Homo sapiens: one gene and its partner. The protein of the gene in region 1 purifies or fractionates together with the protein of each later gene. This does not show direct contact. Each region holds a gene or a part of one and is shown on either strand. Other genes may lie near its edges.

Region 1 (3,752 bases):
GTGCCTTGCCCTCATAGACAAGATGTGAGTGTCAGGGTTCAGCGTCCCTGTTCTTGGGTGGCATCCATGCGGCCCACAGGCTGTCCTGGGCAGGAACAGGATGGTCCACTTTGCCATCTAGGACCTCTATTCTGTAGGGGCTAAGGTGGGCTGCATATATAACCAGCACTTGGTTCTCTTGGATCCCTCAGTCCTGTGGGGAGTAGGATAGGCAGGCCACATCTGAGGTGGGTCTCCGAGAGGGAGGCCACGTGAAAGCCCCATCATACTCCTGGTTGCTGCTGTCCACGACCTTTAAGGCCCCTCCCATAGATCTTCCAGTCAGGCTCTAAGGGTCTTTTGGACTTAAGACTTCCCCTCCCCGACCTTGATGGACATGGCTGAGCACCTTACTTGTGGGGAGCCCAGGGGGATCTTTGGGGCCAGGTTGCACTGAGGGTATATAAGCCCCCATATATCTGCCCTTGGTGCTGGGGGCAAAGTTCAGGGAGGGCTCCGATGGCCGTGTTGGGGGCAGGAAACAGTGAGGGGTGGGATCCTGGGGCTGACTGCTGGGCGGTTGGGGACACCACCCCTACTGGCCAGCCAGTGTCCCAGGCCCCTGCATCCAGCGGAGAGAGCAGCCACTCTTTGCCCCTCTCCTCTTCAGCACAATAGTGGCTCCTAGCCTAGGTGCCCTGCCATAAGGATTTGGAGCTGGTGGAGTGGGGTATGGCCCCAGGCCATACCCCAGCCTGACCTGCCAGGCTCCTAGGCCAATGGCAGCTCCTCTGGGTTCACCTTCTGAGACTGCTTCCTCAAGGTGAGAGGCCAGGGCTTTCATGATCCAACTGTGTGCATCATGGGCTGACTTCAGTCTCCTGAACCCCAGGACTCCATCGTCGTCAAAGCCAGAGGTGGAGCAGAGAGTCAGAGCAAGCACATGGGTGGGGGGCAGAGCTGGGTTTGAATCCAGGCGATGCCAGTGTTCCTGTATTTACTGAGCACTTGCTGTATGCCTGGCAGGAGGGTACGATTCCTCGGATCATGGGACAAGGGGCTTAGCCTGGCTGAGCCCCTCTCCTCAGGGTTTCAGTGGGTGTCACAGGAGGACCTCCCAATGAGGTCCACCTTGCTGTCCTGTTGCTTTTCTGTTTGGCCTGATTGGAGTGTTCCCAAGGGCAGGGATTTCTGTGCTCTGAGTGTCTGGTACCCAGCAGGGATGGGAGGGGAGGCAAGGGAGTTAGATGCCAGCCCTGGAGGGTGGATGGGGCAAGCAGGACAGCAGGAAGGAGGCTAGTGGTGCCCAAGGGGCAGAGACCTGGGAACCCAGAGGCCAGTGATGGAAAGGGTTAGCGCCAGGCAGAGAGGGGCTGGACCCACACACAAGACCAGGCAGAGCAAACAAACGTAGAGGAGAAGGGCTGGGGGCAAAGTCCTGGGGAGAGGACCAGCCACTGTCAGCAGTGCCAGGGCCACCACCCCTGGGGAGGAGCCATTGGGCTACTCTTGAGGGGCCAGAGGTGAGCCTGAACACTCCACAGCTGCTGCTCCTAGGGAGGAGCTGGTACCATGGGTGTCAGGCAACAGTTGGCCTTGCTGCTGCTGCTGCTGCTCCTGCTCTGGGGCCTGGGGCAGCCAGTGTGGCCAGTCGCTGTGGCCTTGACCCTGCGCTGGCTCCTGGGGGATCCCACATGTTGCGTGCTACTTGGGCTGGCCATGTTAGCACGGCCCTGGCTCGGCCCCTGGGTGCCCCATGGGCTGAGCCTGGCAGCTGCGGCCCTGGCACTAACCCTCCTGCCAGCACGGCTGCCCCCAGGACTACGCTGGCTGCCGGCTGATGTGATCTTCTTGGCCAAGATCCTCCACCTGGGCCTGAAGATCAGGGGATGCTTGAGCCGGCAGCCGCCTGACACCTTTGTAGATGCCTTCGAGCGGCGAGCACGAGCGCAGCCTGGCAGGGCACTCTTGGTGTGGACGGGGCCTGGGGCCGGCTCAGTCACCTTTGGTGAGCTGGATGCCCGGGCCTGCCAGGCGGCATGGGCCCTGAAGGCTGAGCTGGGTGACCCTGCGAGCCTGTGTGCCGGGGAGCCTACTGCCCTCCTTGTGCTGGCTTCCCAGGCCGTTCCAGCCCTGTGTATGTGGCTGGGGCTGGCCAAGCTGGGCTGCCCAACAGCCTGGATCAACCCGCATGGCCGGGGGATGCCCCTGGCGCACTCTGTGCTGAGCTCTGGGGCCCGGGTGCTGGTGGTGGACCCAGGTGAGGGCCTTGGAGCCAGTGGAGAATGGAAGGGGGCAAGGGCAGGGACTATAGGACAGGGGTTCTGCTGGGACTGGCAGAGGCCCTTGGTCCCCACCTGCCTACTTTCACAGGCAATTATAATCAAGACTTATGAGCAGAAAGTAGTTCTCAGGTCATCAGAGTTTAATTTTCCCACAATTTGACCAAAAATACTAATGATGGGATTCTTTACCAAACAACATGGATGCTTTTCTCTACTAGCTGCTCCTCTGCCTGCATCTGTGGGTCTCAGATCCCGCCTCGCAACCTCAAAGGTGAGCCTTGCCTCTGTTTCTCCTCTGACCCATCTCTGCAGACCTCCGGGAGAGCCTGGAGGAGATCCTTCCCAAGCTGCAGGCTGAGAACATCCGCTGCTTCTACCTCAGCCATACCTCCCCTACACCAGGGGTGGGGGCTCTGGGGGCTGCCCTGGATGCAGCGCCCTCCCACCCAGTGCCTGCTGACCTGCGTGCTGGGATCACATGGAGAAGCCCTGCCCTCTTCATCTATACCTCGGGGACCACTGGTGAGGGTGCCCATTAGCCCTAGCACCAGCCTCTGAACTCTCAGGCTGACCTGACCCCACACTTGACTTGTGACTCAGTGTTGACCTCTGAAACCACTTTACCCTCTGATTTTGACATTTGTTTTTTGTTTGGCTGTTTTTTTTTTCGAGGCAGAGTCTCGCTCTGTCGCCTAGGCTGGACTGCAGTGGTGCAATCTCGGCTCACTGCAACCTCCACCTCCTGGGTTCAAGCAATTCTCTTGCCTCAGCCTCCTGAGTAGCTGGGATTACAGGCACACACCACTATGCCCAGCTAATTTTTGTATTTTTGGTAGAGACAGGGTTTCCCCAAGTTAGCCAGGCTGGTCTCTAACCCCTGACCTCAGGGGACCTGCCCAACTCAGCCTCTCAAAATGCTGGGATTACAGGCGTGAGCCACTGCTCCCAGACTTGATTTTGATATTTGGCCTGAACTCTGACCCCCAATGTAATTTGAGAGGTCAATGCCAGAATTCTTCCTGTGTCCAGTAAACAGCCACTGAAACCTTTGATCTTGACATATTACTTTCAGTCCAAATTCAGCCTGTGAACCCAACCACAAATCCCTATACTTGACTGTTCTCTGAGAGCCTCAAACCCCAATGTAGGCCTGGCTGTTGGAGATCTATCCCTCTGGTCAGGCCCCTCTCTGTGCTGTCATGTCACCACCCTGCCCTTGCCATGCCTTCATCCCAAGGCCTCCCGAAGCCAGCCATCCTCACGCATGAGCGGGTACTGCAGATGAGCAAGATGCTGTCCTTATCTGGGGCCACAGCTGATGATGTGGTTTACACGGTCCTGCCTCTGTACCACGTGATGGGACTTGTCGTTGGGATCCTCGGCTGCTTAGATCTCGGTAAGCCCACTTCTGAGGATCCCTCCAGTCTACAGGACCACGGGAGTAAGTGTCGGCGTGGGGCTGTCAAGGCAAAAAGACACCATAGGTTA
Region 2 (3,652 bases), on another chromosome or scaffold:
ACAAAATAGTCTCTCCCTTCTGATGAATTCTTAGCTTCTGTGACTTGCTGTGCAGCCCAATAGAGCTTTATAGTTTCCTTAAGTCCAATTTCTTGATTATAGAGGTTGCTTCAACCTAGCAGTTTAAAGTCAAAGATTTGAGCCAGTTGATAAGGATGTTTCCTTGAGCAAGTAACAACCTCCAGGTGAGGATCGGTGAAATGCAAGTGATACTAGTGCTTTTCCTGGAGGGTTGGTGTGAGGATTAAATGAGTTAATGCATGTAAAGCACCTACTCTATGTTGTTCAGCATATGTTAGCTGTTGTTTCTTTTACAGATGAGAAAACTGAGGTTGGAGAAGTACAGTGATTTGTCTGAGATTCAGTATTCAGTTAATTATAGACCTGGATCTAGAAACTAAATCTTCTGATTCCTGATACAGTTGCTGAAATGCCCATCGTTTAAAGTTAAAAAAAAATTCTTTAAAGTTTTGTCTGGTCAAATAGCTCCCCTTCTAGCCACACTGCTTTGTTGATATGTTTTCTTAATTTTTCATTCAAATGATTTGTAATCTGAAGAGTGTTTTAGATTTAATAAACTTTTATAGTTTATTATATTCTATATACTGGAGACATAGATAATCAATTTTTGAGTTTTTAAAAATCTCCTTTCTAGAGAAAGATTTAGTGTGTAAGTTGAATGTGTCTATTAACTATTTTTTCCTTTATGATTTTGGATTCTGAGATAAGATGGCTACTTGTACTGTTTCTATCATTTTCATTTTGCAAATCAGTTTTTGATGTTCAGAATTAAGACCAAGAGCAGCAGTTTCTCTCATTGCTTAGTTCTCTAATTAGGTATGAAATTAACAGTAAAGTTGGTCACTGAGCAATTTTAATATGACATTTGGTTTTATAAATGTTATGATAAGCTCACTTTGATTTTAGTTCTTAAATTTAACTTTTTAAAACCTTTTCTTCTCTTGCAGTTGAAAACAATCCTCGAACAGGAAATCTTGGTGCACTAATTAAGGTCTTCCTTTCTAGAACCAAAGAACTAAAACTTTCAGCAGAATGTCAGAAGTAAGCTGGCTAATTAAACCATGTTTGCTTTATATTTAACAATGTGAATTTTAGTTTTCATTTATTGATGGAAATGGACTGTGGTCTTTTGAAAATCTCTGTGAAGGAATTATTCTCATTATTAAGAAAAAAAGGTAGAGAGGTTTTAGGTTAGTGTCTAAGTCACTGGGGTGAGATTATAGATTCGGGAATCTGATTTCAGCTTTTTAGACAATCTTTAGATTATATTCTTTAAGAAGGTGAATAATGATGTAATTATCGTTAAGAAGGTAATTCCCCTCCCCCCCATTATCACTGCTGCTGCTATCTAGTTTAAATGATGACTTAGTCTGAGTTTTATTTCATTCTACATCTGTTGCAGTTATTTCCGTTATATTCTTTACATCAATGGAAGGTTAACTTTTTATGCACTGAAGCATTTTTCAAAACCATGTTTGGATGTCAGTCTCTGAAAAGATTAAAATATTTTGCATTGTCTTGCTTATAAACAAATTACATTGAATCCAATAAAGTTTTTCTTGGGAGTTCATGGTCATTAATACAAATAAAAAGTATTTTACCGTGCTGCTGGCAATGCCTCGTCGAAAATTTTGGTTACATATTTGCATATATTCTTTTTATGTTACCACAATTTTTTAAATTTTTTGGTAGCTTTCTTCTCTTTTAATCGCATGTACGTGGTATACCTATTAAGAACAAAGAACAGTCATTCCTACAGTCATCAGTAAAGATTTTTATTAAGTAGATTCACTATGTAAAGTACATGGAATGAACTATGAAGTAAAACATAATATCACTGGTACAATGAAATAAATCATGAGCCATTAAAAGATATGGACATTATCCTAATATTACCAATAGGATGGACAAAACGGTTGTCAAATCAGGAAGAAATCATGAACTAGAAATAAACTATGGTGCTTATGTTTAAATATTGATTCTTGTATGATTTTGGTCTTTCTAGCCACATCTTCATTTGGCAGACACACAATGCTTTGTTTATTATTTGCTGTTTGCTGAAAGTGTTCATCTGTCAGATGTCAGAGGAGGAATTACAACTTCATTTTACTTATGAAGAAAAATCTCCTGGCAATTACAGTAAGTATTGTTTTTAAAGATGTTCTGGATATATCATGTGTAACATTTAAGGATAAAATTTCAGGAATAAAAGTATGATTTTGAAAATTCCAGTTATCCTTATAATTTTCATTTTAAAATGAACTTATACTGTCATTTTTTCTTTTTCTGTGTTAATTTAAATGAGTCAAGACTCAAGCGTTTTTTGTTTTTGTTTTTCGTTTTAAATAAGAAAGCTGGTGGGGTTGAAGCTTTCATTTATTTTGACTTTCATGCATGTGGATGAAGAAGAAAGTAATATAAAAAATAAAACTCACACAAATATGTATTTCTTTCAGAAAACAGAGGTGTCAGTTTTAAATATCATTGCCAAGTCAATATATTATTAAGGGAGCCAACTAGTCAGATTTTATGGTAAAGGTTACTTTCATAGCGTGCAGCAATAGCTTCTGGGTCTGAGTGTCTTTGGGACTACGACACTTTATCAGAAGTAACATTTTCAAGGACAGTTTTATGATGCCAAAGTGTCTCATCTTTTTCTGAAGATACAGGGAAAGATTACCCTTCACACAATCTTTCCTTTCTGAGGGCAAGGCAGTGTTGCCCCATAGTTTTCCGAGTTCTGTTTTCAAAATAGATCTCTGCCCTCATCAGGCTGACAGCGTCACCTGTGTGATTCAAGGTCATATGTTAACATCTCTTGTGGGAACAGGTATTGGGAGAGAACTTTGAGATGTGTATACTTTTAATGGAGGTCTGTGTGCTATGTGGATTTCATGCATATGTATAATAACACTTTCATATACCTAGGAGTAATTTTTCACTGTGGTTTCAACTGTGTTGCTAAATACGTGTTTTTAAATGTCAAAGTCAAATATTGACAAAGGGAAACAAACGTATAAAAGAGTTACTGTTCATCCAGGTCAACATCACAATGTACTGATTTTTCAGTATATCCATGTCTATGGGGAATATTTCTTAAATTCTATTATAGAATTTTTATTTATATTTTTATTTTTATTTTTTTTGAGATGGAGTCTCGCTCTGTTGCCCAGGCTGGAATGCAGTGGTGCGATCTTGGCTCACTGCAGCCTCTGCCTCCTGAGTTCAAGCAATTCTCCTGTCTCAGCCTCCTGAGTAGCTGGGACTACAGGTGCATTCCACCAAGCCCAGCTAATTTTTGTATTTTTAGTAGAGATGGGGTTTCAGCATGTTGGCCAGGCTGATCTTGAACTCCTGACCTCAAGTGATCCACCCACCTTGGCCTTCCAAAGTGCTGGGATTACAGGCATGAGCCACCGTGCCCGGCCTAGAATTTTTAAAAACAATATTATGGGGAAGTAGAAAAGATTCTGTGGAAAGTTAACCTTTTGTGCATTCAAGCATTTCTTAAAACTATTTTTAGATGGCAAAAATCTTATGGAAATTCTGGTTATATCATTTAAATGTATTAAGGTATTATGTTACATTTTGAGCAAATGAAATGACATGGTACAAGAAAACAATAGTTTAC

Evidence for each region.
Region 2: the proteins of SLC27A5 (region 1) and DYM purify together in Homo sapiens (affinity purification with mass spectrometry; one large-scale study listed by BioGRID and IntAct). This does not show direct contact.

What each region holds. Positions count from the first base shown.
Region 1 is NC_000019.10:58,509,755-58,513,506, reverse strand, and holds the start of SLC27A5 (long-chain fatty acid transport protein 5), read left to right. Parts: upstream 1-1,514; 5' UTR 1,515-1,551; coding exon 1,552-2,239; intron 2,240-2,383; exon of another isoform or gene 2,384-2,576; coding exon 2,577-2,786; exon of another isoform or gene 2,787-3,501; coding exon 3,502-3,660; exon of another isoform or gene 3,661-3,723; intron 3,724-3,752. UniProt on the Homo sapiens protein: May mediate the import of long-chain fatty acids (LCFA) by facilitating their transport across cell membranes. Also catalyzes the ATP-dependent formation of fatty acyl-CoA using LCFA and very-long-chain fatty acids (VLCFA) as substrates.
Region 2 is NC_000018.10:49,377,075-49,380,726, reverse strand, and holds part of DYM (dymeclin), read left to right. Parts: intron 1-968; coding exon 969-1,062; intron 1,063-2,026; coding exon 2,027-2,160; intron 2,161-3,652. UniProt on the Homo sapiens protein: Necessary for correct organization of Golgi apparatus. Involved in bone development.